Homo sapiens: one gene and its partner. The protein of the gene in region 2 purifies or fractionates together with the protein of the main gene of each other region. This does not show direct contact. Each region holds a gene or a part of one and is shown on either strand. Other genes may lie near its edges.

Region 1 (3,693 bases), on a different chromosome or scaffold from region 2:
TTTGGGGTATAATTTTGTTGCCTCCTTCTCCAACACACAAACAATAGCCAAATGGGAATCAAAGTATTGGCTTATTAATGGCCAGGCAAGTACGTTAAAACCATTCAAATAGGGCTTCTTTAATGAGATGTGATGGCTCTTAAGTGGAAGTCTGGGCGAGGAGACCCCTTTTTACCTTCCTGAATGGGACACAGTAGGGGACCATCGGACAGGCTTCCACTCAGTCACATAGCAAGTGGCAGGGCTCCGGAACAAAGTGTTGAGCTGGGTCCGTTCCAAAAAGCAAGGCCCTGCCTAGGTCAGTTGGTTGCCTGGGAGCAGGGAGTTCAGGTGTGACCCTTAGACGTGACACTAAGAAGAGGAAGAGTGGCAGAAGACATGCTAAGCACAGGCAATGACTTTAAGGCACAGGAAGTTGCCCAACAGGGGATGGGGCAGAAGCATTGCTGTTCTCTCAGGACTGGATTCCATAGAGTGAGGAAGATACTTGAGCTGAAGGAAGAAATGCCATCCCCACCCTTACCCCAACAATAATAACAAAATCCATATGGACAAAAAACATAATCTTTATCTTAAAGGGTGTTAAATGGGATTAAATAAGATTACTTACTTACTATTGAAGTCCCTAGCAAGTTCACATTGTGAAAGCAATAATGTCTGCTGCACTCTGTCAAGGGAAGCAAATTTTTATTAGGTAAGTGTTATCATCAAGACCATTTTATAGCTGGGGAAAGGGAGGCTTAGAGAAAGGAAGACTGGTCTGGTAAAAAGCAACAACAATAATATAATAAGCAAAAAAGCAATCACACTTTTACCTTGTGTTTTGGATTTAGAAAGCCTGGGAAACATTTTCTTTAAGGCTCTCTAGAGAGGAGATAAATAATTAGGCTATACTTGTCTGGAACTCCAAAGTTACCTTAAGCTTTCATAGCTGGTGAACTCAGTTTCAGGCTTGAAGGATGGAGAACCTGCTAATAAACATTTACAACTAAGGTCATTAGTCATGGATGCCATTTGGAAGCCAACAGTACTTCTTATATTTTCCAAGTAATATGACTCCATTCAATGATCTCAAAATATATCAACAACTTTGACATACATGCAAAAATCAGGGATAAGTATTTCCACTTCAGATTGGACAACAAGGTTCTGTAGTAAAACATTTTAACAACGAGAAAGCCTTGTCTCTTTAAGTATGAAGAAATACATCAAAGAAGTTCTACAAATTGTGATTAAAAACAATCAAATTTAACTTTATTGCAGATCTTTAACTACTTTTTACCTAATCAAAGATATTTATTTTAGTACACTGGTAGTATATTTTCTATATGTCTTAGGTTTCTGACCAGCAGGAACAAAAAAAGCAGTTTAACTTATACTACTGACATATTTTAGATTCAAATGTTTGCTCCATATTTTTTCCAAATTCAAGTTTATTTCATTTTTGAACCTAAACTTATATTTCCAGTTTTACTTTTTTCCTTGAGGAGTTATATCCATCTGGAATGTCTAGATAATGCCAGGGTTTATTTGGGGTAATAACCTCAAATCTCAGTGGGTTAAAATAGCAAAGATCATCATTCTCATGCACACTACATAGCATGGGCTGATTGGGATACTTGCCTCTACTTGATTCTCACTCACAGACCTTATCCAAAAGAGTTTCCATTGCTGTGCTTCCACAGGGAGAAACAGAAAAAACAGGAAACTGAGCACTGGCTCTTATTGCTCCTATATGAAAGTGACACACATTACTTCTCACATTTTGACGCCCAACAAGTCACATGTCCATGGCTAAGTTCAAAGAGGTCAGAACAGTGTACTCTTCCCCATTTCACTAGAATATAGAGACCCAGAAATATCTGTGAAACCATTAATGCATACTATAAAAGATGTCTTATCATTCTTATTTTATATCAAGGTCACAAAAATAGTATGTGGCAGAGGGCAATTATAAATCTAAGTCAGATTAAAGGTTTATGTTTCTTCTACAATATTTTTATAGTTTGAGTATGTGAAAATGTGAAAATAAGAAAATTGCCCTCTAACTGAAATTTAACCTACTAAGTACATTTACCAGACACCATTCCTCCTATATGACATAGCAAAATAAATACTTCTTTTTTGAGGAACCAAACAGTAAAGTTCTTTGAAGGAACAAATAAGAGTGAGGGAAACAGGAGGGGGATGCATATGTAGCATATAGGAAGGAATATTTAAATGAATTGTCACATATAAGTCTCTGCTCTAGCATTATTTCAGAGTATTGAATAAGAAAAGCTGTTTTATTTTTTCCCTCATAGGAAAATATAAACATTGATGAAGCCTCCAGATGCCTGGTGAAACACATACTTGCAAATGAGTGTGACCTAATGGAGTCTATTGAGCCGGACGTCGTGAAGCCCCATCTCACATCAACCAAGGTTGCCAGCTGCTCTGGCTGTGCCAAATCCTAGTAGGCACCTTTGCTGGTGTCTGGTAGGAATGACCTCATTGTTCCACAAATTGTGCCTCTATTTTTACCATTTTGGGTAAACGTCAGGATAGAGATACCACATGTGGCAAGCCAAAGATCTATGCCTCTGTTTTTTCAGTGAGAGAGAAATAGCAAATGTTCTTTCTATGCTTTCCTCACCATCATCACAGTGTTTACAAACTTTTGAAAATATTTAGTCTGTTACAAACTTCTGTCATGTAGCTGACCAAAATCCTGCAGGGCCACAGTCGGCACTGTTATTTGCTTCTTTTAATCAGCAAAGGCCTCAAGTCTTAAAATAAAAGGGGAGAAGAACAAACTAGCTGTCAAGTCAAGGACTGGCTTTCACCTTGCCCTGGTGTCTTTTTCCAGATTTCAGTATATTCTCTGATGGCCTGACAGGCCTATTAAGTAGATGTGATATTTTCTCCCAAGATGACCTCCATTCTCGGCAGACCTAAGAGTTGCCTCTGAGTTAGCTCTTTGGAATCGTGAACACAGGTGTGCTATATTGTCCTTGTCCTAACTGTCACTTGCCATGGCCTGAATGTTGGCTTAACTGAATATTGTATGAAAAGACATGCCTCCATATGTGCCTTTCTGTTAGCTTTCTCTGACTCAAGCTGTGGGGCTCCTCTATACATGCTATACATGTAATATATATTATATATATTTTTGCAAGTGAACAATAAAACATTAAAAGATGCTGTTTCCCTATTTATGAAAGTGCTTTAAGTTTCTTAGTGTTGTGAAGGGATTTTTTTTTTTTTCGGACAAAGTAAACAGGGTTCTCAAGATCCATTTCTAAAATTTTATTTCAAGGAGGAGATGAGAAATGTATGCTTAAAGAAACTGCTGGACACTATTAAAACTGGGATGAGTCTATGCCATCTGCATTTACTGTTCATATTGACATTTAGGCTACAGAGTGTACAGTGCATATACATATTTTTAGTTAATCAGAGGAATATGTCCTCATAGATTCTGATTAAGAAAGGTGCCAGATCAATCAACATAAAAAGAAACAATAAAATATGCATTGTGACACCTTGGTTTACACAGTGGTTGTGGTGCTGACACGTGCAGGTAGCTATTATTTTTTAATGTCATTATTTCATATTAATATTTGTAATACACTCACAGGAGTCGTATATACATATATATATATATATATTTTGTTGTTGTTGTTGTTGTTGAGACGGAGTCTTGCTATGTCA
Region 2 (4,200 bases):
TTTACCCTTACATTAGTCTATTAATGTCAACCCCAATTAAAAAAAATAAAACCTTACAGAGAAATCCATCCAATCTTAATCAGTTTGATCATGAACTGAGATTGTTATAAATCTTTTATAACCTTTTACAAATTTTTTTTGTTAAACAGCATGTAAGTGCTTCAAGAAAACCTTGTTGTGCTTGTATTCCATTGTTCAACTTATGGAAAACCAAATAATATCCTTTTTAGTGTAGTCAATATGTTTACACACAGGATTCCTTTTACAAGATTAATTTTTTACAAACCTTCCATAACTTGTTTGAACCTTAAGCTTTATCTTATATAATTTAAAACAATCATTTAACCCTCTGAACTAGGCAAAAATTTACATTCCCATGCCTTCTTATATTATTTTACTAATGATACATTTTACTCTCCTTACTCACCTCACGTGTAGATCTGTTTTCAGTAGTCATCACTACATGTTATAATGGTAGCTCTTAGTAATTGTTAATTTTGGTGAAATACCCAGTAAGTTATTTTAGTTACGTACTTAGGTGCAGATGAGGTCTAACTATTTCCAGCATAGCTAGGGCAGGCCCTACCAAACTGCAAAGCAGGAAAGTTGAACAATTTTCAAAAGCCAAAGCAGTTTATGACCTTAAAGCATTTAGTCAACCTAGTTTCTGACTTGCATAATTTAGACCATGTCTATATTTTGAAGACATTTCTATTTTCATTTTACTGATAATTTAAAAGACAGCCTATTTAGCAAAGTCATACTTAAGTGAATTTGAAAATTGCTTAGACTTATTTACTTAATTTATGAACACTCTTTTACTTATAAGCCAATTTGGTAGACACAACATATAACAGTAAGTGTACATACAAGTAAACACATCTAGACATGTATACACACACACAAATGAAGAGGTGGAGCTTAAAACACCCAAATTGGGTGCAGTGTATACTGCTTGGGAGATGGATGCACCAAAATCTCACAAATCACCACTAAAGAACCTGCTCATGTAACCAAATAATACCTGTTCCCTCAAAACCTATGGGAAAAAAAAACTAAAAAAAATACTTAAATGGTATCACAGAACTAATTAGCCGAATACAGTATCTAGTACCTGGCTGTCACCCAATACTTGCCTCATACCATCACATCTAGAAAACAAGTAGATATTCTTTTTGGAAGAGCCCTGAGGGAGCTACTAGGAGGTTTGCACGGCCTGCTCTCCTGCCCTCTTCTTGCTCTGTGGCTGAACTTCAATTCTCTTCGGGCTTAGACCCCACTGACTCGCTCCCGGGCAAAGCAAACGATTTGATCAGATGGCCACGTGCATTCTTCCTTTTCCTGAAACCAGCACCATAGGGTAAAAGATTATTTCTACTTGGTTGCCTTCCAGATGTTTCACACTTGGACAGCAAACTGATTTCAAACCACTCCTTTTCAAAGATCTCTGAGGGAGACATTGCACCTGGCCACTGCAGCCCAGAGCAGGTCTGGCCACGGCCATGAGCATGCTGAGCCATCATGCCCACCGTGGATGACATTCTGGAGCAGGTTGGGGAGTCTGGCTGGTTCCAGAAGCAAGCCTTCCTCATCTTATGCCTGCTGTCGGCTGCCTTTGCGCCCATCTGTGTGGGCATCGTCTTCCTGGGTTTCACACCTGACCACCACTGCCAGAGTCCTGGGGTGGCTGAGCTGAGCCAGCGCTGTGGCTGGAGCCCTGCGGAGGAGCTGAACTATACAGTGCCAGGCCTGGGGCCCGCGGGCGAGGCCTTCCTTGGCCAGTGCAGGCGCTATGAAGTGGACTGGAACCAGAGCGCCCTCAGCTGTGTAGACCCCCTGGCTAGCCTGGCCACCAACAGGAGCCACCTGCCGCTGGGTCCCTGCCAGGATGGCTGGGTGTATGACACGCCCGGCTCTTCCATCGTCACTGAGGTAAAAAAGCCTCTGTAACATGGGAGTTCCTGGGACAGGGAGAAATATAAAGCAAATCCTATGAAGTTCAGTTCCATATCAGGAAAGAGGTAGGGGGCTATGTTTATTGTGCAGTTCGTGGGTGTCTGGCTGTGTCCCAGGCACGGGGCATTCTCTTCTCTAGTTTAATCCACCACAAACTCTGGGTCTTTGAGGAGGAAGCTGAGGCAGGAGAGAACAGCTAGCACAAGTCGGGGGCCAGGTTGCCAGGTTGCTTGAATGGGAGTTGACTGGGAGACCAGGAGCCTCTCTGCCTGCCCCACTGGCTTCTCCCAGAACTATCAACTTGCTCTGGGTCCCGCTTCCCCACCAATAGTACTGTGGGCCCCCTCCTTCTGCTCAAGAGTGATGACGATTGACCTCAATGATGGTGTTGAGGTGGCCTGGAATTGCCCTGGCTTGGAAGTGAGAATATTTGGTGGAATCCCAGCTGTGCCCCTTATTAGCTGAGCATCACTGGGTAAGTCACTGCCTCTCTAAGCCTCATTTCCTCATCAGTCAACCAGGGATGATGACGGCTGCCTCATAGGGGTGTGAGCTTCAGCTGGGATCTGTGAAAGCACTGAGCAAATCCAAACTGAGTCACACCGTGCAGTCCGATGGGGCCCATGGGATAGGGCGATGGCCTCAAAAGGGCCTTGCTTGAGTAGTTTACTTGGTTATTTGAGCATTTTGCTTTGAGAATCCTTTAGTAAAAAGTGTCACCACATTTTTTTCCCATCATGAGCCCTTTTGAAACTATTGCACGGTAACAAGTGTGGATGCTTGGTGGGTTGGAGAAGCTGTGGGCCAAAGCCCGTCAGGGGCCTTCTGTTAGTAACGAGCAGTGGCGTGGTTTTGGTGCAGGCACTGCTTCCCTGAAATAAGAGGTAACTGGGCCCTCCCTGCCTCTGGTCCTGCCCACTTGTCTGCCCCCACTACCCTCGCCCAAGCTCTCCGGACTTCTTGGGTCTCTGTTCTTCCTCTTTTCCCTTTCCTGAGTGGTATCAGCGGTGACACATTTAGGGCTATTACTGGAGGAAAGCTTAGGGTCCCTCCCCTCTGGGCCTGAGCATTGCTCTACCTGCTTGCCTGGAGCAGAGCAGGTGCCGGTGCAACTGGCTTTACGATGCTGAAGAGACATCTTGTCTCCAAGGCATCCTCCAACAATGGATGACAAGTTAGGCAGCCCACCTTCCAGGGATCTCCAACCATCTGACATTCCCACTGGGAATCTAGAAGCAGACCAGGATGAGGATGTGTTTGCTCTCTGGGACTGAGACATACTCTGCTTTGAGGAGATCAGATGTGATCATTCCTCCAGTCAGACATCCACCCAGTATGTTCGGCATACTCCCTCTATTCTGGCACTGGGTGTGATGCCGCAGGGGAGATGCAGAAGAAGATTGTGAGGTCCCTCAAGGAGTCTGCAGTCTTGTGGGGACTGAGAGGGGAAGAGGATGGCAAGAATGAGACCAGTGTTCGTTTAATGACAGCCCAAGGCCGCCTGTGGTGAATGCCATGAGCAGGGCGGAAAGGGACTGGTGGGCTCTAAGAAGGTAGAGATCTCAGCTGCTGAGCTCTGAGCTGATCATAGACGTCTTCTGGGAGGAGGTGGCTTTGAGCTGAGCCTCAGCTGGTATTTGGACCAGCAAGGAGAGGGGACAGGTGGAGTAGAGGGGAGGGGAAGTAGATCCCCAGACCAAGGGGAGAGCTTGAGCCTAGGCTCAGGGCCCAGGGAGTGTTTGCTGCATTCAGGGTGCAAGGAGCACTGATATGAGGGTCATGATATGAGGAGTTGTGGGGAGAACACTGGTGTCTAACCTTGGGGCCAGAACACGGAGTGCTTAGTGTGGGGTTGCCAGGTACAATACAGGATGCCCAGTTAAACTCGAACATTTGAACTTCAGATAATCCAACTGGATAGGATACTTACTTCCCAGATACTGCATGATATTTGGTACTGATAACTGAGACTGGAAATGCAAATATTGCATGAACATACTTATCCTAAAAAAAAAAAAGTTGTTTATCTGAAATTCAAATTTACCTGGGCATTCTGTATTTTTATTTGTGAACCCTGGCAACGCTACCTTAGTGCCCAACAAAGGAGTTTGGGTCTTATTTAGGCAGGCAAGCAAGGTGACCCTAGCTGGACTCGTGAATGGGTGGGAAGGGGCGGTGGTGGGATTGGAGGCTTCAGGAGAGGTAGAGAGATGCATGAGGAGGCCAAGAGTGAGCCCCGGTAAG

Evidence for each region. The genes of interacting proteins can lie anywhere in the genome.
Region 1: the proteins of SLC22A1 (region 2) and RAB38 purify together in Homo sapiens (affinity purification with mass spectrometry; one large-scale study listed by BioGRID and IntAct). This does not show direct contact.

What each region holds. Positions count from the first base shown.
Region 1 is NC_000011.10:88,112,751-88,116,443, reverse strand, and holds the end of RAB38 (ras-related protein Rab-38), read left to right. Parts: intron 1-2,303; coding exon 2,304-2,456; 3' UTR 2,457-3,193; downstream 3,194-3,693. UniProt on the Homo sapiens protein: The small GTPases Rab are key regulators of intracellular membrane trafficking, from the formation of transport vesicles to their fusion with membranes.
Region 2 is NC_000006.12:160,120,415-160,124,614, forward strand, and holds the start of SLC22A1 (solute carrier family 22 member 1), read left to right. Parts: upstream 1-1,400; 5' UTR 1,401-1,521; coding exon 1,522-1,932; intron 1,933-4,200. UniProt on the Homo sapiens protein: Electrogenic voltage-dependent transporter that mediates the transport of a variety of organic cations such as endogenous bioactive amines, cationic drugs and xenobiotics. Functions as a pH- and Na(+)-independent, bidirectional transporter.